Regions from separate parts of the Homo sapiens genome. Here region 2 is linked to region 1. The links come from fine-mapping of genetic effects on gene expression. A gene starts in region 1. The other region holds a variant in brackets. All regions are shown on one strand. Distances are from middle to middle.

Region 1 (11,654 bases):
TTTGCCAGGTTGGTCAGGCTGGTCTCAAACTCCTGACCTCGTGATCCACCCATCCTGGCCTCCCAAAGTGCTAGGATTACAGGCATGAGCCACCACGCCTGGCCAAAAAAGGTGAATTTTATCTGATTAAATTACCTGACTAAATTTGCCAGCTGAATTAAACTTGACTTGAAAAAAAAAAAAGGAAAAGGAAGTGAGCTGATTTTATATTTTGATAGATAAGGTCAAATTATCCTCCAAAATGGCTACACCAGTAGAATTCGAGAGTGCCTATTTTGCTATACACTTGAATATACAAATGAATATAATCAAAATTTTAAAAGTTTTGTCTGTTTGATGGTGAAAAATATTTTGATCCTTGATATTCATGCAGCAGCATTAAGATCTTGTTCTGGCTAGGTGCAGTGGCTCACGCCTGTAATCCCAGCACTTTAGGAGGCCGAGGCAGGCGGATCTCGAGGTCAAGAGATGAAGACCAGCCTGGCCAACATGGTGAAAACCCGCCTCTACTAAAAATACAAAAAAATTAGCTGGGCGTGGTGATGTGCGCCTGCCGTCCCAGCTACTCGGGAGGCTGAGGCAGGAGAATCGCTTGAACCGGGGAGGTAGAGGTTGCAGTGAGCATAGATTGCGTCACTGCATTCCAGCCTGGTGACAGAGCTAGACTCCATCTCAAAAAAAAAAAAAAAAAAAAAATCTTGTTTTAATTGGTCTCCTCTTTAGTCTTTTCTCTTTCCAAATCATCTTATATAATGTTAATAGAGTAATCCTTCTTGTGCTTAGTTCTAATAATATCTGAACAAATCTTTAATGATCCACCGTCACCTACAAAATTAAGTCCAAACCCTTCAGCCAGATCTTTAAGCTCTCCTTGTTCTATATCAGCTTCCCTTTTCTCTCTTCTCTGCTGCGCCTCTCTAGGTCTGGTATGTCTTACCACTTTCAGTAAGTGATTATAAAGTCTCACTCTTAGACATCTAGCTCAATGGTTCTTACACACTGGAATCCTGGGAAGCTTTTAAAAGACAGGGCTGTCCAAGCCTGGTCTGCAGAGATTTGGATTTTACTGGTCTGAAGTGTGGCCTGGGGGTGTTCTGTTTTGTTTTGTTTGTGGTGTCCAGGTGATTTTAATTTGCAGTCAGCATTGTGAACCACTGCTCTAGCTGATCTGGCCATCAGCTAGATAAATTTCATGCATTCCTGCCTTTATATTTTTGTACTGTTGGTTCCCTCCACCTGGAACACCTGTCCTGTTCTCTTTAGCTGTCCAAGTCCTCTTCATTTTTTAGGCGCCCCCTAACACCCAGCTTCCATGCAACACTACACTGAAGCTTTGCTTGATCTCTTGTGCCAAATATGATTTCTACTTCTTTGAACTTTTTTTTATAACTTCCTTCGGACATCTGTCATGTTCTACTTTGCAATATGTAGGTTTTTAAAATTTGTTTTTTTTTTTCCCGTAAGACTGTAAGCTCCTTGAAAAAACTGTAGACAATTATTATTTTTTTTTTTTTTGAGGCAGGGTCTAGCTCTGTTGCCCAGGCTGAAGTGCACTGGCATGATCACGGCTCACTGCAGCCTTGACCTCCTCAGGCTCAGGTGATCCTCCCACCTCAGCCTCTCGGGTGGCTGGGACTACAGGTGCACGCCACCATGCCTAGCTAATGTTTTGGATTTCTTCATAGAGATGGGAGTCTCACCATGTCGCCCAGGCTGGTCTCAAACTCCTGGGCTCAAGCAATCCACCTGCCTCAGCCTCCCAAAGTGCTAGAATTACAGACGTGAGCCACTGTGCCCGGCCTAATTAATCTTACTGATCATTTAGCACATGACTCTACGGGGCGCTTACTTAGTAGGGACTCAGTAAATATTTTTTGAATGTTTATTCTGGCTACTTCTCCACTTTGCACAGTTGTTCCCTCTGCCTGACACCCTCTTCCCCAGCTATCCCCATGGCCCAATGTCACCTTAGTAGGGTGATCATCCCTGACTATTCTATTTAACACAGTAACACTGACCCTTCCCTCACTCCTTTTCCCTCTTTGTTATTCTGCAAATTGTTGTCATCAGCCGAAGGCTCACTTACTGATTGCCTGTCTCCTCTCACTAGAACATAAGTTCCACGAGGAAGGGCCTTTGTTTTGTTCACCGTTATACCTCCAGTGCCCACTGCACTGCCTGGCATATGGTACATGCTCAAAAAATATTCATTGAATTTAATGAATGACCTTTGTGAACATTCATCTTATTTTGTATAATTCTCTTAAGAACCGAACCCACAGCTAAGCAAGGTAGGCATGTGAAGCCCATCATCAGATAAGAACATTTGAGGTTTGAGAGTAGGGTGAAGCATTTTGTTCAAGTTCATAAACTTTTCTGTGACAGAGCAGAACGCAGAACTCAGCTGTCCTGATTCCTATTCTAGGACTCTCACACTACCCTCTACCGACTTCCAGCCATCCTCTAACTTCAGTCCCTCTGTCCCATCCTTATCCAGACCCTAAGAATTGAGGGGCCCAGGTCAAGAGTGCAAATAGGGGCTCACGCAGCCCATTTCACATTTGGCCATTTTGGCCATTTCACATCGATGACCAGATTTTCATCAGCAAGTTACATGCCAAGCAAGCAAACTATTAAATATGTCTGTTCTACCTTAACAAACGTATGTCTTCAGAATGGTTAGGCTGGTTCACAGGCAGGATTCGCAGACTTCCTGCAGTTGTGAGCAGAACATCGCAGCCAGGTTGCCATGTGAATATGGGCCATGCCCGATCTTCTCTTCCCATCCCTGGTCCTCTGCTTCATTCCTATAGGTTTCATGTGCGCATCTTTAGAGATGCCTCCTGCGTAAGTTTTGCCACTCCCTAGCAAACAACTACCCCGTGGGACCAGACACACCCTTGGTGCAGCCTTGGGAGAATGGACTTGAGGAAGAGGCCACATAGGCCTGAAGATGAGCCTGGGGTGAAATGGGCAGGATTCTGGGGTCCTGGGCACCTGAGCATGGGAAGATGGGCTGCTGGTGAGGGTGCTTCCTGGGCTTCACAGACTCTGTCCTGAGGAGAGAGGTGCAGTTTGAGAAGGCCAGAGTGGGGCCCGCTTCGTCTAGGTCTAAGGATAGTACTGAGCCTACCTCTCCCTGTCTCCAAACCAGATTGTAAGCCTATCGAGGACCCAGGTTAATTTTCCCCCTCCCCTGGAGGGTGTGTGGTTTAACTGGAGACGACAATTCCAGTTGGAGTTGAGCCTTATGGAAATAAACTAACCTCTCTGGCTTGTTTCTTTATCTATGAGAATTGGATGAGATGATCTCTAAAATCGATTTTAAAATCTTACACACACACACACATTTGCACACACTCCCCTACCTCCAAGGACCACTCATCCCCTCTGAGTCTGCAGAGTAACACCACCTACCAGCTGGACTGTCAGAGCCTGGTAGACATTTTCCCAGACATGGAGGCAGAATGCCTTAAATCCTAACAGAGGTAAGATTTTGTTTTATGCCTTCAGAGCTGGGAGACTAAGGGACCCTAGGGACCTCACTTTCCACGGACACTTTGGTGTCCATGAGTCATTTCTAGTATCTCAGGGTTCCAATTTTTATTTTTACTTCCAGCTGATCAATCTCTTAATGGCAGGGCAAACACTATTGTCTTTGAGTTTGCAGAGAATGGAGAAGGAGACTCCTTTCTTTTTTCTTTTCCTTTTTTTTTTTTTTTTTTTTTTGAGATGGAGTCTTGCTGTGGCACCCAGGCTGGAGTGCAGTGGCGTGATCTTGGTTTACTGTAACCTCCGCCTCCTGGGTTCAAGTGATCCTCCTGCCTCAGCCTCCTGAGTAGCTGGGATTACAAGCACGTGCCACCATGCCTGGGTAAATTTTTCTGTGTTTTTATTAGAGACGGGGTTTGCCATGTTGGCCAGGCTGGTCTTGAACTCCTGACCTCAGGTGATCTGCCTGCCTTGGCCTCCCAAAGTGCTGGGATTATAGGCGTGAGCCACCGCGCATGGCCGAGGGAGGCTTTTTTCTCTGACACCAACGGGTCTAGTGTAGATGGCAGCTTGCAGGAGGCTGAGGCCAAATCTGAAGATGGAACCTCTTCACGGGCGGAATGCATGCTCTGGCTCAAACCAACGATTGTCTACTGAGGGCTTACTGGGGCTATGAGAAATCCTAAGCAGGATAGCACCATATTTGAATTTCATATTAATTTATTGGAGGTGGGGTGGGGGCTGTGTGTGCAAAGCATAAATTCATAAAAGATAAAACAACACAACAGGACAAGACCATTCAAGAGTTGCACGAAGGCAGTGGTTTGTGGTCAAATGTGCTGTTATAGAGAGTTCAGAGAATAAAGATAAGTGTGTGAATAAGAGGTCCCAGATCTATGGCCATGGTGTCCTGGGACCAGACATATCTGGGCAGTTTCTCTTAGGTACTTACCTGGGTGTGCACGCAGAACCCTCTTTGGGAGACAGGAGCAGTTACTGTAATAAACATAGGGGCTGTATGATGGGGGGTTACAATAACGTGTAAAAACACCAGGAACATCAACAAAAGCTTTTTTTAACCTTTATTCTCATTTTCCTTGAAACTACCAGGTTTCAAGTACCCACCTGTAAGGACCAGGTGTGTACCTACAGAAGAGTGCCCCTGTCCTATTCTTAGGAAGAACTATTCGCCAAGGGCAAGGAGTCCAGAAGAGTTGGAGCTGCAAGGCTGGGCAGCCCCTTCAAGGGCTGGGCCTGGCAGGGGAACCCGACTGAATAGCCGCGAGGATCCCTCTGCCAGTGTAATGATTCACCTTTTCCGCTGTCTGCCATAGTTTTTCTGCACGAGATAGTGTCCCCCACACACACCGTTAATATCTGCTTGATGCAACAATGCCAGTGGGATGCAACGATTCAAAACTTCCAATTCCTCCTCCCTAGACCCTGAAGCCACGGGGCGTCTTCAGAGTGACGTGCCTGGCACACAGTAGGTACTTGACAGATGTCAACTCCCTTCTTCCCGTTCCTCATTCCCCCCGCGGACTCCAACCCTCAAACGCTCTCTGGGCATTCTCTCCACCTCTCAGGAGCGCCACTTTCCCTAAAACGGCCTGGCCTTGCGGGTCTCCCCAGCTCCACGCCCATTCGCTTCAGCAGCCGCCTGCTCAAGGCCTGCTAAGTGCAGGGTCCCGCGGGCCTCCCAGGCCCTGAGCGCAGGGTCGCTTCCCGAAGACCCGCAGAGGTGGCCGCACCTTCTTAAGGCAGGAAGGCGGGGGAGAGCTGCGTGCGCTCTGCTCGCCCCTGCCTTGCACGCTGAGCTCTAGCGCAGGAGCCCGACTTTGTCTGGCTTTGTCCCCTCCGCGGCCCCGAGGCTGTCCTGAGAGCGCGGCGCCCCACACACCTGCTGCCCGCAAGGAGTCGGCGGGAGAGGAGGAGCGAGGGAGGCGAGAGGACCCCTCCCCCGGCTTGCCGGCCTACCCTGATCCGGGCGCCCCGGGGAACGCGCGGCGGGACCCGGGGTTGGGTGCGGGTCGGGGCGGCACCGCCCGGCCCAGGCCCCCCGAGCCCCTCGCGCTCCCTCCGGAAGGCGGGTCCTGGGGGAGGGCTGGGCCGCGCCGCCTCGCCGCCCTTGCCGCCTCTGCCGCGCCGAGCCCCGCGCACGCTGCCCCGGCCGCCCCGCAGGCAGGCAGGCAGGCAGGCAGGCAGGCGTCCGGCCGGCCGGGAGGGGGTGCTCGCCGTCCCGCGCCCGGGCCCGCGCGTTGCCGGGCAGCGGCTCCGAGGCTCCGAAGGGGGCGGAGCGGCAAGGCGGGCGTGCGGCTGGCGCCCCTGTCCTCGGTTCCGGCCCGGCCCGCCCCCGCCTCTCCGGCCTCCCTCCGCGCCGGTGCGCGGCGCCCCGTCCCAGCCGCAGCCGCAGCGGCCGCCCCTCCCGGACCCGAGAGCCGCTGAGCCGCGAGGCCGGGCCGGGGCGCCGGCCGGGAATGCCGGGGGCGCGGCGCCGACGCCGAGGCGCGGCCATGGAGGGGAAGCCCCGCGCCGGGGTCGCGCTGGCCCCGGGGCCGAGCGGCCGACGGCCTTCCGCCCGCTGCGCCCGCCGCCGCCGCCCGGGGCTGCTGCTTCCTGGCCTCTGGCTGCTGCTGCTGGCCCGGCCGGCCTCGTGCGCCCCAGGTAAGCTCCGCCGAGACCCTCGGAACGCGGCCGCGACCCCGCCTGCCTTTATCGCTGCTGTTTTCAAAACCCCGGCTTTCCCCGCCCATCCTCTTTTATTCTCCAGCTCCCTCGCCGTCCTTTCTGGAAGATGCTTTGCCATTCTTCTGGGGCCCAACAAATAAAGGCACGGGGGAAATAAATAATTAAAACGAACAAGCGAGCGGCTTCTGGCCGGTCTTGCTAAGGGGTCTGCAAAGCTGTTCTCTTGTCCATGGAACCCGAAGCGGGTCTGGTGGCTTCATCTCAGAATGTGCCTGGTTTTTCCTGCAGAATGCAGGCACCGGCGTGCTTTTTTGTCAAGGCTGTATGATGTGGCATATCGAATGTTTTGAGATACTTTATTGTCGGGGCGAAGAGGTGGATTCGAGGTGTGCTTTAAAAGAGTATTGCATTACCGGGACAAGCCCAGCGTCCCCCAGATGCGGGCAGGCCGGCCGTGTCCCCCCGTACAGCAGGACACAAAGAACATTCAAAGAAAACCTCTTGGAAAGCGCCCTGGCCACGGATCTTTCCAGGGAAATAGCTATTGGTATTACTTCTGCAAGGCATTATTAGTACAATGGAGTGTGAAAATATTTTGATTCTTAAGTGTCTGGGCATGAAAGGAGTAAGGGCTGTTTTTATAACAGATGCAATTTAGTGACTGTTCATCAGTATGGAATGAAGAGGCATGATTTATGAAGAAGCATAAGGGTTTTGTTGTGGAAGAAATGATTTAATTCCTATTGCTTCTCCAAAATGTTTATTTGTCCACCCTGAGCCTGTACACAGGATGGTCTGGAAACCGTCTCTGAGCTGACACTGCAGGCCAGCGATTGCCCCTGCACAGGCACTTGACCACTTTGAGGCGGAAAAGGAAAGGTGGAAGGAGCAGCTAGGGGTGGAGAGCTGCTGCACACAGAACAAAAACCAGAAAGCCGTGAACGCTGCTCCGAATCCTCCTTTCTCGTGGGAGCAGGGCCAAAGGGCTACTCAGTGGCTGGGAGGAATTGGAACACATTTGAAGGTGTCCCTTGGACCTGTGAGAATTATAACCAGTGCCCTAGAGGGGATGGTACAATAGAAGCACAGGGAGGACTTCAGGGATCATGGAACAGGTCCACTCTGCTTACCAAAGAGGAAACTAAGGCAGAGAAGTGCCTTGCTCAAGGTCACAGTCATCACTTTCCCTGCCTCCCACCCCCGCTCTTGGCCCATAGACATATCCACACCTGAAGCCTCTGCAGAGATTTCCCATAGCTGGGTGGAACCAGGGTTGGGGTGACAGAATGAGTCTCTTTTAGGCAGTATACAGCTAGTGCAAACACCTTACTCTAACCTAGGACCTCCCGTCTCAGTCCTGCTCCTGCGAGTTCCAGCCCTGTGTGTCCAGAGGAGAAGAGATCATTGTCAAGGGTCTCTTGGCTTTAGTCAACAAAGAGAGCCCATCTGATACTCGTGGATTCATCTGTCATAAGACACAGCAGATAAATGGTTTCCATCTCCTGAGTGCTTTTTGTGTGCCAGATGTTGAATTTTATATACACGATCCAATCACGTTGTGAGTTAGGCATAGTTATCCCCATTTTACAGATGAGGAAACTAAGGCTTTGAGTTTAGGTTGGTTTGGCTTCAGACTCTATGACATGCTTCCTTTCTGTGCCTGATGGCTTCCCCATATGAATGTGGCCATCTGGGTGTACTGCAGAGGTTGTGGAGAATATAAGTGCTTCTGGTAACTTTAAAATAAATAGTGAAGCTGTTTGCACTGCCCATCCCTAACCTTCTCTTCTTTGGAAGTCCTTTCCTGCTTCCCCTCTACCCCCAATACAAATATTCAACCTGGAGACATGAAATTAATAATATTTCCATTCTAGACCTGACATCATGGAAAGAGACTTCATCCTTTCACTGGTTTGTATATTGGCTTCAGCCGCTGCCAGGCTCATAGACTAGGAACTAAGAAGTGGAGGGCACAGCCCCTGTGCTCCAGGATCCAGCTGGAAACACAGAGCAGTGAAGGAAGTACAAACCCTTGCACAGACCATTCCCGGACAGGAAAGGCAGGATTCCTTATGGATGACCTGCTGGAGGTGACCCCATCTACTTGAAGACTGTGAGGAACGATCTTGGTGGAGGGTGGCTTCCTGATGTAGCTAGGGTGTGTGTAGGGTGCCTGGGCGGTGCTGTTGATCCTGGGAAGAGGGTGCGTTGCAGTTGCTTGGGCTGCCCTCCCAGTCCTGAGTGTGGTATTTTCACCAGGAGATTTGGAATGTAGGAGAGCTTTGCTGAACACTGCTGTGGTGGTTGGTTCTCTTTCTAAGGAATAAGCAGTGGTAGTCAGAAAATGGCATGGCTTAGACCTGTTTTGGACTTCCTATGTGAGGCAGCATTCCCTTCCGTGGCTGTCTGAAAGCTATCTCCTCCTTCAGCTGGCTTCTCTTGTTAACTTTTGTTCAATAGAGTCCACCTTCCAGGTGGTCCCCTTATTACAGTCTTTGGTTAAATCTCTATGTTAAATCGATTTCTTGTCTATTTGTATTTCATTCAGCATTTTGAGTGTGTTTTTTTAAAAAAAAAATTTACAAGTTTGGTCTTAACCATTGACTGTTGTGGAAACAACTTGTAATGCTTTGGACTTACTTTTGAATGCATTGCTCTTAAGTGATTAGCCATCCACAGTATAAAAACAAAGAATCATGCCCAGTTTCTTCACCTTATTCAGAGATAAGTTTTTAAAAAGTAATAGTTATTATGAAATAGATTGCTTTGTAGGGAATTTGGAAATTACTGAAAGGTACAGAAACCAGTCACCCATAATCTCACAGCCTGTAGGTAACACTAAGTAATTTTATCGTTTTTTTGTTGTTAACATTAAAAAAAGAATTATATGCACAATTGTATTTACTACCATTTCCACTCTACATTTAACTTAAGCATTTTTCCATTCATTAAGTCTTATTTGAAAACTATTTTCTATCCTAATGATTTATTCTTTTATTTCCATTTTTTGGGTTGCTGTAAGTAATGCTGATGAATAGCTACATAGAGAAGGCTCTGCTGGCCATGCGCGCTGGCTCACGCCTGTAATCCCAGCACTTTGGGAAGCCGAGGTGGGCGGATCACCTGAGGTCAGGAGTTTGAGACCATCCTGGCCAACATGGTGAAACCCCGTCTCTACTAAAAATACAGAGATTAGCTGGGTGTGGTGGCATGTGCCTGTAATCCCAGCTACTTGGGAGGCTGAGGCAGGAGAATTGCTCGAACCAGGGAGGCAGAGGTTGCAGTGAGCCGAGATGGCGCCATTGTACTCCAGCCTGGACGACAGAGCAAGACTCCGTCTCAAAAAAAAAAGGCTTTGTGCATGTTTCTTTCCGTGTGTGTGTGTGTGTGTGTGTGTGTGTGTTTTCTTGAGTATACATTTGTGGAAGGGGTATTAGAGTGTGATTAAAATGTAAGGCCCACCAGGCTGGATTTCTGCATCTTTTGTTCAAAATGCTGGGCCCCTAGTAGGTACTCAGTATGTGATTTTTGAATGAAGCAATTTTTGAAAGTTATAATGCTGACATAAGCCCTTGAAGCTTACGCAGGGGCCTTCCATTATCACTTGCATTGAGTATTCACTTCATCACTGGCATTGAATGTTACTTTAAAAGCCCTTGTTAAATAAATTTGTAATACATTGTTTTAACCTGCACGGTTTTATTGCTTTAGAATTGAATATTTTTTATTTTGTATTTGTATTCTGTGAATTTTCTCTGTATTTTTATTTATTTACCTGTTGTGGCATAGATATGTATTTAAATCTTTATGTATTAGAAGGATAGCAACCATTTTTCCTTCTATATGTTGCGTTTTCCCCTTCCAAAGGAATTTCTTTTAAATTTTACATAATTTTGAAATGTAGAAGTTTTTGGTTGTTTTGATTAGCAAGATCTGCCATTTGTTCTTTTAATAATTTTTTTATTGCATTTATGCTTATGGTGTGTGAAATTTTTTTCTTAATGTGCTGTTTTATTATTGGCCATTTCTAGGTGAATATTTATGCTTTGTGAGTCGTTTAGGATATTATAAACAAATACTTAAATGTTTCAAAAGTGTGGCCCCTAGGCCTCCTGCATCAACATCATTTGGGGATGTGGGGGTGCTTGTTAAGAATTTAGATGTCTACGACTCACCCTTAGCCTCTAAATTAGACTCTTTGGTGGCAGTGCCTGGGAATCTTCATTTTAACAAGTTGACAGCTCCGTTTTAGCCCCTGAGCATTGGAACCACTGATCCGGATATGGTAAACCCAGTAACTGAAAATTAACAGTATTTTGAAGATATAGTAGTCCCTCCTTATCTGCAAGGGATGTGGTCCAAGACCCCCAGTGGATGCCTGAAACTTTGGGTAGTACTGAAGTCTGTATATACCATGGTTTTTTCCTATATGTACATACCTGCAATAAAGTTTAATTAAAAAATGAGGCACAGTAAGAGATTAACAATAATAACAAAACAGAACAGTTCTAACAGTCTACTGTAATAAAACGTGAATATGCTGTATCTCAAAATACCTCAGAATATCTCAAAATATCTTCAAACTGCAGTTGTCCTCCGGTATCCGAAACCTTGGAGGAGGGGGACTACTGTATACCATTGGTATCTTGCAGTTGTCTTTTCACTGTTAGAACAGCTAATTTAAAATCGTTATGTTGAGGCCGGGCGCGGTGACTCACGCCTGTAATCCCAACACTTTGGGATCACCTGAGGTCAGGAGTTGGAGACCAGCCTGGCCAACATGGTGAAACCCGGTCTCTACTAAAAATACAGAAATTAGCCGGGTGTGGTGGCAGGTGCCTGTAATCCCAGCTACTTGGGAGGGTGAGGCAGGAGAATTGCTTGAACCCGGGAGGCAGAGGTTGCAATGAAATGAGATCGCGCCACTGCACTCCAGCCTGGGTGACAGAGCAAGACTCCATCTCAAAATAAAATAAGATAAAATAAGATAAGGTAAAATAAAATAAGCATTTTTTGTTACATGTTTTTGCTTGGTTTTGTTTGGGTTGGGAGTGAAAGGGTGCAGAGGACTGCATTTTCAATGCTCACTCCTGCCCGTTTGGGAACAGCTGCTGCAGTGCTTGTCAGGAAGTGCCTCACTTAATTCTGAAAACAGAACCCAGCCAGGGAGTTGTTACAAGTCACTAGGGACGTGGGAGCCACAGGTTTTCTATCAGTGCCCTGAATGATAGAGGCAGCTAATTACCGTCATTATAATTACACTAGGTTGATTTTCCCAGATAGGAAGACACTGTTCTAACTGATCTAATTTGTTTTCAAGTTGTGACCACCCACCTTTCATCTGGAGCTCACAATGATGTGATTTCTTTTTCTTGTTGTTAGGCAGCAGGATTTGTTAAAAGGTGAGTTAAAAAACCTGGGTGTGTGCAAATGCAAATCTGCCTGTAACTTTGTGACTATGGACAAGTTACCTT
Region 2 (11,654 bases), 85 kb after region 1:
TTGTAAAAGTGAAAATGTTGAAACAACTACATGTCCAGCAATTGGGGAATGGGTAAATAAAATTATAGTAAATCTTTATGTGTTGGAATTTTATGCAGTCATTTAAAAAAAAATTAGTGAGTGGTATAGAAAAATGCTCAAGTGGGCTGGGTGCAGTGGCTCACACCTCTAATCCCAGCACTTTGGGAGGCCGAGCAGGTGGATCACTTGAGGCCAGGAGTTCAAGACCAGCCTGGCCAACATGGTGAAACCTCATCTCTACTAAAAACACAAAAATTATCTGGGCATGGTGGTGTGTGCCTGTAATCCCACCTCTTCAGGAGGCTGAGGCATGAGAATCACTTGAACCCGGGAGGTGGAGGTTTCAGTGAGCTAAGATCACACCAATGCACTCCAGCCTCGGGGACAGAGTGAGACTCTGTCTCAAAAAAAAAAAAAAAAATAAAACTCAAGAGAGGCTACAAAAGTATGTATGCCATGTAATCCAAATGTTAATACAGAATTCATGGAGAAAGAATAGAAGGAAAATGCTAAAATGTTTACAGTGATTTTCTTTGGTTGGTTGAATTTTAGGTGATTTTCATTTTCTTTATATATATTTTTTGCATGTGTTTTTCAACTTTAATTGGCTGTGTAATTTCTAGAGAGATGTGATTTTGCTCAGAAAATAAATTTTGAAATTGAAAATGTTAACCAAAGTGATGATGACTCCCATGGTTATAAGGGTTCCAGATAGGAATCTCATAGGCAGTAGTCTAGAAAGGATACTGGGATTAGATTTTCTTGGCTTACATTCTGCCTGGACATCTTAGTCCATTGATGTTGCCGTAAAGGAATACCTGAGGCTGGGTTTGTAAAGAAAAGAGGTTTATTTGGCTCATGGTTCTTCAGGCTATACAAAAAGCATGGTGCTGGTGTCATGGCGAGGGCCGCAGGCTGCTTCCCCTCTTGCTGGAAGGCGAAGGGAAGCCAGTATAAAAATCACATGGCGAGAGAGGAAGCGAGAGAGAGGGAAGGGAGGTGCCAGGCCCTTTCTAACACCAGCTCTCTCAGGAACTAGTAGAGCAAGAACTCATTACCTCGAGGACAGCACCAAACCATTCATGAGGGATCTGCTCCATGACTCAGATACCTCCCATTAGGCTCCCCCACCACCATCGGGGATCACATTTCAACCAGAGAGTTGGAGGGGGTCCAACATCCAAACTGTAGCACTAGACAGACTTGTAGAATCTTTAATCAAGGTGGGTATCACTGGATTTTGGGGACTGTGATTTCTAGAAGAAGAAACTATACTTTTTAAATTTATTAGAACTTTTAAAATGGAATAAGTAGGTACATGGGTAGAGAGACAGATGGATATAATCTACTTCCTTTTCAGTAGCCCTTGCATAGCATTCCATTCTAAAAGCTAATAAAAAATTAATCACCACTGTACCGTTGTCAGGGAGGGAGTTCTCAGGACGAAGCATAAAGAACAGATTGTTGAGGGAAGAGGGTTTGGACGTGTGTTGTTAAGGATCTTTAGACACGATCTGGAAGAAGGAGTTCACAGTGAAATCGTGAAATTGCTGATCTGCCAGAAGTTTCCCGTGGTGAAGGAGGGGTCCAGCAGCTGTGTCCAGAGCACAGGGCAGTGTTACAAACCCATACGTGTGGACAGAGAAGTAGCAGCTGCATGTTGCCAATGGCAAATGTAGAGACCAGCAATTTAAATGGCACATGTAAAATAAGGAGCTCGGAGCCCTCGCTGATCCTTTTCTCAGGACAGAAGCTCAGAGTTTTGCTGGAGTCTAAAGGGGTAATCACATTGTTGCATATTATTAGAGAAATAGAGTGAAATGAAAAGGTACGATATGTCAAGTGTGCTAGATTTTGAAATAAGGGCATAAAAAACTGTCTTTTAACACCAGAAAGAGAGAAGTTTTGGGATGAATCAAAGTATTATTTGACCCACAAGATTATGAATTTATGAGGTTTATTGTCCATAGACCTGTGGTGGGTGGGGGTGATTTTGTCCTCCAGGGTGCATCTGGCAGTGTCTGGGGATGTTTTTGGTTGTAACTTGGGTGGTGCAGGATGGGGGTACCTGGTGGGTAGAGGGCAGGGATACTACTAACCATCTACAGTGCACCCCATGTCAAGGGATTGTCAGTAGAGCTGAGGTTGAGAAGCCCTGCCCTAGCAGAATGAGGAGGAAATACCAATAGGCTGAAGAAAGGATTGGGTAGAACCATTAATAGTTTCAGAGAACCAGGGATGTACCTAATCCTACAGTTAATGTTGGGAGGATGATGCTCTCTTATGACGTGGTCAGCACATCAGAGATTGTGGGGATGATTTTAGACCACCTGGACTCGCCAGCCCTGGTTCTGTGCAGCCTCCCTGCCCCTTGGCCCCAGAAAAGATGTAGAGCGAGATGAAGCAACCTGTTACTCCACACAAAGGAACTCCCCACTGTCCCTCTTCCCATCAACAGAGAGCACCATGGTGATTCTGGGCCCCTGAATGGCTTACGGAGCTTATTATGAGGATTGGAATAAATCCTGAGTGACACAGCCAGGATTCAGCAACCTGAGAGAGGGCATCTAGAAACATGAGCTTCTGCAATGTGAATGGTTTCTGCTATCTTTCAGGTGGTAAATGTGTCGAGGCTGGAGGGAGATGACAATCCGGTACAGCTCATCTACTTTGTGGAGGATCAAGATGGAGAAAGACTCAGTGCAGTCAAGTCTTCGGACCTGATTAACAAAATGGACCTCCAGAGAGCAGCCATCATCTTGGGTTACCGAATTCAAGGTGTCATTGCCCAGCGTAAGTGCCTGAGGTGTTGTCGTCTGTGCTGTGCTGTGCTGGGCACCAAAGCCAGGCTCGTTCTGACAGTGAGCTCTGAATGTAAAGCATTCCGATGTGTGTATAACCCTGATGGTGAAGTGCCAGTTGTTAAAATTCATTCACCAAGACCTTCTTTATTTGGATTTCAATTGCTTGTAGGTTTAGCCTCCACTGCTGTTTTTTCTACCTAGCATTTTGTAGGTGGGGTGTTAATAATGATTTATAGTACATCAACTTTAATATCTGTCCCTCATTCCTGTACTACTACTTTTTTTATAAATTTTGTCTAAGGCAAAATAATGTGTTTGCTCTGTATTTATTCCAAAATCTTCTGTGTCATATTTTGAACATTGGCGGGGACAGTGAGTCATGCAGGAAGCTGGGAGGTGCACCCTGAATTTATTGGTTTCCTTCAGGGTCTTTTAACACAGAGAAGTCCTTGATCCTTCCCCTTTTCAGTCCTGTTTCTCTCCCACCTATCCTCACGTCACTCCACAGTGTAGACAGAGGTATTTTGAAGTTTCTTTATTATTGTTGGAAGGTTTCACTCCTGCCTGCCTGGCCCTGGCTGCTGTCAGTAGTTTCCTTTCCACCTCACAGATTTGTTTGCTTTTTTTTTTTTTTTTTTGAGATGGAGTCTCACTCTGTCACCAGGCTGGAGTGCAGTGGTGTGATCTCGGCTCACTGCAACCTCTGCCTCCCGGGTTCAAGTGATTCTCCTGCCTCAGCCTCCCAAGTAGCTGGGACTACAGGAGCACACCACCATGCCCAGCTAATTTTTGTATTATTAGTGGAGACGGGGTTTCACCATGTTGGCCCGGATGGTCTCGATCTCTTGACCTTGTGATCTGCCTGCCTTGGCCTCCCAAAGTGCTGGGATTACTGCAGGTGTGAGCCACTGCACCCGGCCCCACCTCACAGATTTTGAGTATTTAAAATTGAAGAAAAAGGAGGCACATGGAAGAGTGTATTTTTCTAAATAGTCCTTTACGGTGTGAATCAGATTCCTCTTTTTTTTTTTTTTTTTTTTTTTTTTTTTTTGAGAAAGGGTCTTGCTCTGTCACCCAGGCTGGAGTGCAGTGGCTTGATCGTAGCTCACTGCAGCCTCAAACTCCTGGGCTCAGGTGATCCTCCTGCCTCAGCCTCCTGAGTAGCTAGGACCACAGTCACCACCACTACACCCAGCGATTTTTTCTTATTATCTGTAGAGACAGGGTCTTGCCATGTTGCCTAGGCTGGTCTTGAACCCCTGGCTCAAGCAATCCTCCCACCTTGACCTCCCAAGGTGTTGGAATCCCAACCATGAGCCACCACACCTCTTTTAATGTCAGTGTTTTTCCTTTGTGATCCTGCAAGCAGTCTTGGTAAGAGAATGGTGAAACTTGCTCCCAGCAATAAAAGGAGAGGTAAATGTTTAGAGGGAATTCAGCATCAGAGAATACAGAAAAATCTTTATGGAGAACATGTAGGAGATAAAGACAATTTTTAAAAAATGATAGCTTTTAAATTATCCTTGATAGTAGAAGGTTTTTATGAAATCTGTACTTGTCCCTGGAGACCAACCAAGATGAGAGCTGATGGGCATAATTTCTCTATTTTATGGAAGATGATGGGAGGGTTTAAGCAAATAACCATTGGCAATTTGTGTTTGTGTATGTGAGATATGATCACATATTGATGTGTTCTCCTCCAAAGCAGTGAGCAAAAAATAGCAAAAGCACTTCGTTACAGTTCTTCATATATGCGATTCCTGATTGTAGGAGACGTGCCCTACTCCAGCCAAGCACTTGACATTTTAAACAGCTAATTGCAATAGAATATGGGCACCTTTCAGATGTGATCTTGCACCTCTTTTCCTCAGTTTTGTACCGAAAACCACGTGGGTAAAGATCCTGGGATCTCAGGGATGGCGATTGAAGGAAGCCTCAGCCAACACCAGGGATAGCCCAAAGGCAGCCCCAGGACACTGGTGTCAGGGTCCAGTTTGATCAACCTCTGCCTCATCAGGGTTTTCCTAGGTTAGAGTAAGAAGAGGGCAGGTGTGGTGGCTCACACCTGTAATCTCAGCACTTTGGGAGATAGAGGCAGGAGGATCAGTTGAGCTCAGGAGTTCAAGACCAGCCTGGGAAACATAGCAAGACCCCATCTCTACAAATAATAATAATAATAAGCTAGCTGGGCATGGTGGGGCATGCCTGTGGTCCCAGTTACTTGGGGGGTCTGAGGCAGGAGGATCACCTGAGCCCAGGAGGTCGCGGCTGCAAGTGAGCTTGATTGTGCCACCACATTCTAGCCTGAGTGATAGAGTGAGACCCTATCTCAAAAAGAAAAAAAAAAAACAACCACACCCACAAAAGAACTAAGAAGAGTGTCCAGTTGTCTCAGCTTCTCAGTTTGATTCTGTCCGTACTTCTATATTGTCCGTTGCTTTTATGCAAAATGAGCTACATATATTAACTATATTCAGCCCAAATTAAAAAACACAAGTTTTTCACTTTGTTGCTTTTTACCACATCCCATGCAGCCTGTGCTCTAATCTGTGCTTTTTTCCCTGGTGCATTTGATTTAGAATGCTTGCTCCCTCCCTTGCCACTCCCTTAGGTGTCTAAACCCAAAGTTAAACCAGCACCAAGAACCCTTTTTGTTATTACGTCTTTGAGCAGATACCTTTTGATCCCATAGCAGGTGTTAACCATCATAGGGTATGAAAGGAGCATAAGACTTAGTCCCTGCCCATGAAAACTAAGATGTTTTTGAAAAGACAAGATTTGGCGTCAAGACCGGATGAATGAGTGCAGAAGCGTAGCACTTCACGGATTATCCATTTATATAACAGGAAGCATTTTAAATGAGCAGTAAGGCACCATGTGCAAAACAAAGAGCTAGTGAAGGACATGAAGTGGCCGAGGAGTTGAAGTGCAACTGTCCTATGCCGTGAAAGAGAAGTGGGGGCCGGGTGGGGTGGGTGTGGCAGCAGGGTGGGGAGTGGTGGATCCAAAATGAGTAAGATATGCTTCGTGTAAAAGTG[G/A]ACAACTGGTAGCTTAAATAATGCCGTTTCGATGAGTCATGTTTCAAAGGTTTAGGGAGAGACACAGGTGGGGCAATGAAGGCAGTGCCTATGGGACGCTTATTAGGACTTCAGTTTCCAAATTAACACAGTGAAGCTTCATTTTGGAAAACATAAGGATCATCTTCCTTCTTTTTTTATTGCAGTAAAATATACATCAAGAAATGTACCAATTTAACACTTTTAAATGTATACTTCAGTGGCATTCAGTACGTTCACAAGGCTGTGTAACCATCACCACTATCCATTTCCAGAATTTCTTCATCATTCCAAGCAGAAGCTTTCTATGAGTTTTTTTCTAGATACCTCATGTAGGTAGAATCATACATTTTGTCCTTTTGTGACTGGCTTGTTCCATTATCATGATGTTTTCAAGGTTCATCTGTGCAGCAGCATGTATAGAATTTCCTTCCCTTTTAAAGCTGAATGATATTCCATTGTATGGCTATACTACATTTTGTTCATTCATTCATCTGTGGATGGGCATTTGAGTTCTTTTCATCTTTTAGGCTGTCGTGAATAGCGCTGCTACGAACATCAGCATCTCTTTGTCATTTTTCATTGCTGAAGGGGAAACGACCAGTTGCACTGGTGCACATGTCGTATCTCCTTACTCTGTTTTGCTTTGTGTTTGGCACTAGTGCAATATGAAATTATTCGGTGATTCATTTACTTGATCATTTCTCCTTTCCCCCACTAGGACTTAAGCACCTCAAGGGATTTCGCTTGTTCATGGTTGAGTCCCAGCTTACAAACTGTGTCCAGCACACTTAATAAACATTTGTGAACATGAGAAACTTGGAGTAGTGAGGGAAGGGAGAAAGAGATGAAGGGTTTTCTTCCATAAACTCCTAGTTGAGATGCATGTGCTTTATGTGATCTAGGAGGGTGTGAGTCCTGCGGTACTTGATGGAGCGGGCAGGATTATGTTCTGGAGACACAGCTGTTTTTCTCTCCACTTTTGAAGAGAACTGCCTTTGTACAAAGTTGTGCAGAACCAGTTTTGGTGTGGAAATATCCTGCAGTGATAAGTTACGGGTGAGCTAGTAGAATAAACTGGAAATCAGGAGACCTGGAATTAACTGAGCTTTGCCATTAATTCAGCCATGTACCTTTGGATATATCCATATGTCGTTGTGATCCCTGATGTATTCTAGATGTAACATTGTATGTTGTGTTTCTCTGCTGGTCACATTTCCTGTCATCAGGAGATTAGAACCTGGAACCAGCTATCTTGAGCTGGAATGTCAGGGACTTCTGAGTTTCTCATAGAAGACACGTGCAATCTAGTGCATGAGTGAAGAAGGAATTATTGAAAGACCTTTCTTCCTTGTCTGCAGCTGTCGACAGGGTGAAGAGGCCGTCTCCGGAATCCCAGAGCAACAACTTGTGGGTCATTGTTGGCGTGGTCATCCCAGTGCTGGTGGTGATGGTGATTGTTGTCATCCTCTACTGGAAACTATGCCGCACAGACAAGCTAGACTTTCAGCCTGACACTGTGGCCAACATTCAGCAGCGTCAGAAGGTAACGGGCAGCCTCTTCCCCCAGTGTTCCTATAAGCAGTTTTGTGGGGCAGGGATAGGATGAGTTTGGGCTCTTGATACTGAAAGATGAGGAAGAGGGAGGGCTATTATGGAAATCTTCTGGCTTTAATAGTGGTATCACTTTGCCTTTGTTTCTGCTTCCTGAAACCCTCCTTCTGTGGTAGTAAATACAGTCCAAGAATGTGAAACTGTATAAAAGCCTAGCCATGACATGCCCTCCGGGTTCTACTATGATTTTATTTTGTATTTTTTGAGACAGAGTCTGGCTCTGTCACCCAGGCTGGAGTGCAGTGGCGTGAGCTTGGCTCACTGCAGCCTCCGCCTCCTGGGTTCAAGCGATTCTCCTGCCTCGGTCTCCGAATAGCTGAGATTACAGGCGTGTGCCACCACACCTGGCCAGTGTTTGTATTTTTAGTAGAGACAGGGTTTTGCCATGTTGGCGAGGCTGGTCTCGAACTCCTGGCCTCAAAAGATCTGCCTGCCTTGGCCTCCCGAAGTGCTGGGATTACAGGCATGAGCCACCGCACCAGGCCGAATTCTGATTTATTTTATCCCTGGATATTTTCAGAGGATAGGAGCCAAGGCAGACTTTCTCAGATCTGTTTATCTATTTTGTGTACAACTCCATTGGTCAGTTGCTTTATTTTCTGTTCACCCTATTTGGAAGCCCACTTACCCACCTTGATCATTAAAAACGAACAATACATACCTTGAACATTTTAACTTAAAATATATGAATGGACATTTATTTGCCAATCCTTCAACATATCCCAAGTCTTGTTTTGTTTTGAGTGTTGGTCTACTGAGAGGAATTGTGTTTGGTCTTTCTTACAATAAACAACACCCATGACGTGTCAGTTTCAGGTTCCAGTTTGGGTTTCTTTAGAGAAGAGCAAAGCTACCTGAATGCAAAGTTCTCTCGATTTTTAATACCTCCCCCCACTCCCTATCTTAGAGAAGAGCAAAGCTACCTGAATGCAAAGTTCTCTCGATTTTTTTAATACCTCCCCCCACTCCCTATCTCCTAATTTTGCAGACTTTTGAGTTAATTCACTCACACCTAATTTGACAGCAGATTTTTTAAGTAACCCCTCTTTCCTATGTCTTTCCAAAGCATTCAACTTAAGTGTTTATAGAAATAGCAATTTTCTTTTCCAACGTATGTTTCAACAGTTTCCATAGTATTCGAGGGTCACATCAGGTTTCAGAGCAAAGACATTGACTTTTGGTCAACATTGAGCTCACCTGGTGTGAGCAAAAACATGCCAGGCCTAGAGGAGCACTCACTAGTACAGCATAAGTATCAGTCAGCGTGTTTACCAAGGGAGTGGAACGTGGTAGTCAGTCCACTGTTACTAACAGTCTGCTGGATTAACATGCACTTTCCGTGGGTCTCCCAGATTTGGAGGACTCATCCTGCTTTAAAAGCTTGATAAAAACAAGCAAAAGTCAAAAAACAAAGAATAAAAGATTGCCCTATTTATTTTTAAACTTTATTTTGGTTGTCTTGGGTATGAAAAATTCTGCATATTACAAACCTAGACCTGTCGAATGGAAAAAAAATATGCATTACTTTAAAATTTATTTTACTTTTGTAAAAGCAAAGAAAGAGTATTTGTCTTTTCATATGAATTAACAAAAAAATGCAAAGTATTTATTAAATTGCAAGCTTATGGCTATCAAGTACATGAAAAGCATTTTATACATTAATGTTATGTTTGTTGCCTATCTTTGTTTATTATTTACACAGTCTGCTAAGGTTCTTTTGTTGTTCTTGTTATACTGGTGAATGGCATGGGGAAACCTGGAAAAAAAGTGCTGGGTATACTAAATGATTCATAGTGTGAATTTCACTGTAATAAGATCAACAATAGGTTTGGAAATGTTTTTGTTCTGTTGAAGAGTGTTGTTACAGAGGGAGTTAACCAGTGTAGACGGTTATGTATTTAGGTCTTTTATGGGCCACATTTCCTAACGTATACACTGCCATGGAAGTCCATCTATTATCTGTAACTTCAGTAAATTATCAGAGCACAGCGTCTCTTGGGGTCAAAATGGAATATTCCCCAAGCTTTCTCCTTCTCTCACTTTTACTTCCTAAACATTTTCAAGTCCCAGATGTGGCTGTAAATCAAATGGACAGAGTTTCAGATGGAACTTCCAGCCCTTAGAGCTGCTCTTTTTCCTTCAGGGCTGCAAAGACCTGCCCATACATCCTGACAACAGGTTTACAGAAAAGGTCCTGCAGGGAGGATTCCCCAAAAGAATAACTGTCTTCTGACACTGTTAGGAGGGCAAAGCCTTGCCAGTGTTGCAGAAGCTCAGTCGTGTTTTGCTGGCACAGGAACCCACCCTATAGATTTTGTCGTGTGTTTAAAATGGGAAAATGATCTCTTCATTTAGTTTAAAAACAAATGTCTTTAGTTCATACGTGTTTCTTTTAAGGTCATGTGGCCATAGCAAAGGGCCTCTAGCCTCGTCCTCAGGGTAATGTGCAGAGATGTCACCCTCCCCTATGACTTCAAGAGCTCTGTCTCCTGCTCATGTGGCTGTTGTCTCTCTCTCCGTTCTGCTCTCCCCACCTCCTGATGCGCCTCACCATACTCTCGGAAATCCTTCAGCAAATCCCAGAGCTGCAAACATCTGGAAACAATAAATCTGCTGACCTAAAATCTGCACCCCCCTTCCCCTCGTAACGAGAAGGAAACCTCTTCAGATTGTCTGGGAGTAGATTAATTTTGAAATATGATAGGAGGGAGAGGCCATTCTGTCTTGTTTTGAGGCACAGCCTTTGCTTATTTTCAGTAATAAAGAAGAAAACCCCATGCTTTCTTTTATCTGTATTCTCTATCTGTAGACTCAAGTCATCATTTGTTACTGTTGCCTAAAAAACTCCAGCCCGGATCCTCTTCATCATGAATGGCATTGGCTGGATGCCACTGGCCTCATGGAAACTTATTCCTTCTGATGGGGGATAGTCCACACCTCGTTACTGGTGTCAGACCAGAGCTCCTGACTGCCCTTGGTTGCTTCTAAAGGGCAGCACTTTGGGCAACCGGCTGGAGCTGCCTCAGGCACTGGGTGTCACTCACCAAACATTGAGCATTTGCTGTGAGCCACACCAGATCCGGCTCAGTTACCAACACAAATAGCACGCGATCTCTGCATTCCAGGGCTTTAGCAAGGGAGAAGGACGAGCCATCCGAAAGCAGACATCCAGGAGTATAAGGATGTCTGGAGAACACAGAGGAGGGGGGCACCCCATTTGCAGTGGTGGGGTACTTCTACCTTCTTCAAGGAGGTGACACCAGGGCTGAAGCTTCACGGTGGAGATGAAGGCGGGCCCAGTGGGGGAGCGGAGGGCAGCTCAGGAAGCTAGAGCAAAGGTCATAAAAAAGGGCACAGCCGAAAGCCAGGTGGCAGAGAGCCAGGCCCTGGGGGGTTTTCAGGACATAGAAGGGATTGCAAATTATGCTGTAAGCAGTGGGCAAGCATTGAAAGGTTTTCAGCAGGGAGAGCAGCTTGAACACATTTGCTTTTGGAACGATCCCTTTGGGAGGCAGTATGGACAGTGAATTGAAAAGAGGCTCTGTGAGCATATCGTTCCATCTCAGCCAAGGTCAGCTCATTCCCTATGGTTGCTGTTTGATTCTCTGCAAAGGTCGCCTGTCACACCTAACGTGTAGGTGGTCTCAGTTCACCCACAGCTGGCTGACCGTGCCGGGTGTCACCTGTGGGTGGGAGAATCTGGGAGCCCTGCTCTCCCAAACTCCGGGACCACAGGGTTACGGGAGTGCCCGTGTGGGGCTGCACTGAAGACAAACAGATGGCAATAACTTTGCCTTGTCTCCACTTCCTAAATGGAAGCAGCATGGTGGTTGTGGTGACGTTTCACAAATGACATCAATCAGGTAATAAATGCTTTCAATGGCACTCGCTACATGATGGCAAATTTTTGTTCAGACACTTTTGGGATTTGCTCTGTGTTTCTATTGTCATCTCAACTCCTTCCCAGGGGCTCAGGCTAACCCGAATACTGTGGGCTTCACTGCGTTTTGTGCCACCTGGGCTGTACTGTATTTATGGCCCACGTGTTCACATTCATCAGGCGTCTCTCTCATTACTTGGCTGACCTGCCCACCAGTCAGTCTCCTGGGCTTGTTGGTGACGTATTCCGGTGGGGCACAGACACTGTGGCCTGTTCCCT

Direction of the effects. Positions count from the first base shown, and alleles are read on the strand shown. Sizes are in standard deviations (SD) of each study's normalised expression.
As copies of G replace A in region 2, the expression in esophagus mucosa of the gene that starts at base 5,850 in region 1 goes down (moderate effect, 0.40 SD a copy in GTEx).

The links. PIP is the estimated chance that this variant, and not a neighbour inherited with it, causes the effect.
Region 2: its variant is fine-mapped to the expression of KIAA1549 in esophagus mucosa (GTEx, PIP above 0.99).

The regions. Positions count from the first base shown.
Region 1 is chr7:138,975,585-138,987,238 of GRCh38, reverse strand. It overlaps KIAA1549, which reads left to right and starts at 5,850. Exons shown (of 20, transcript NM_001164665.2): 1 at 5,850-6,156. The coding sequence starts at 5,970. RefSeq lists enhancers at 5,073-5,422, 6,045-6,931 and silencers at 5,403-5,532, 5,553-5,932, 5,973-6,102, 6,942-7,236.
Region 2 is chr7:138,890,115-138,901,768 of GRCh38, reverse strand. It overlaps KIAA1549, which reads left to right. Exons shown (of 20, transcript NM_001164665.2): 9 at 2,637-2,814; 10 at 7,243-7,427. Among named protein-coding and RNA genes, the nearest start is that of KIAA1549, 85 kb to the left of the region's middle. The variant G/A (reference allele first, on the strand shown) is at 5,864.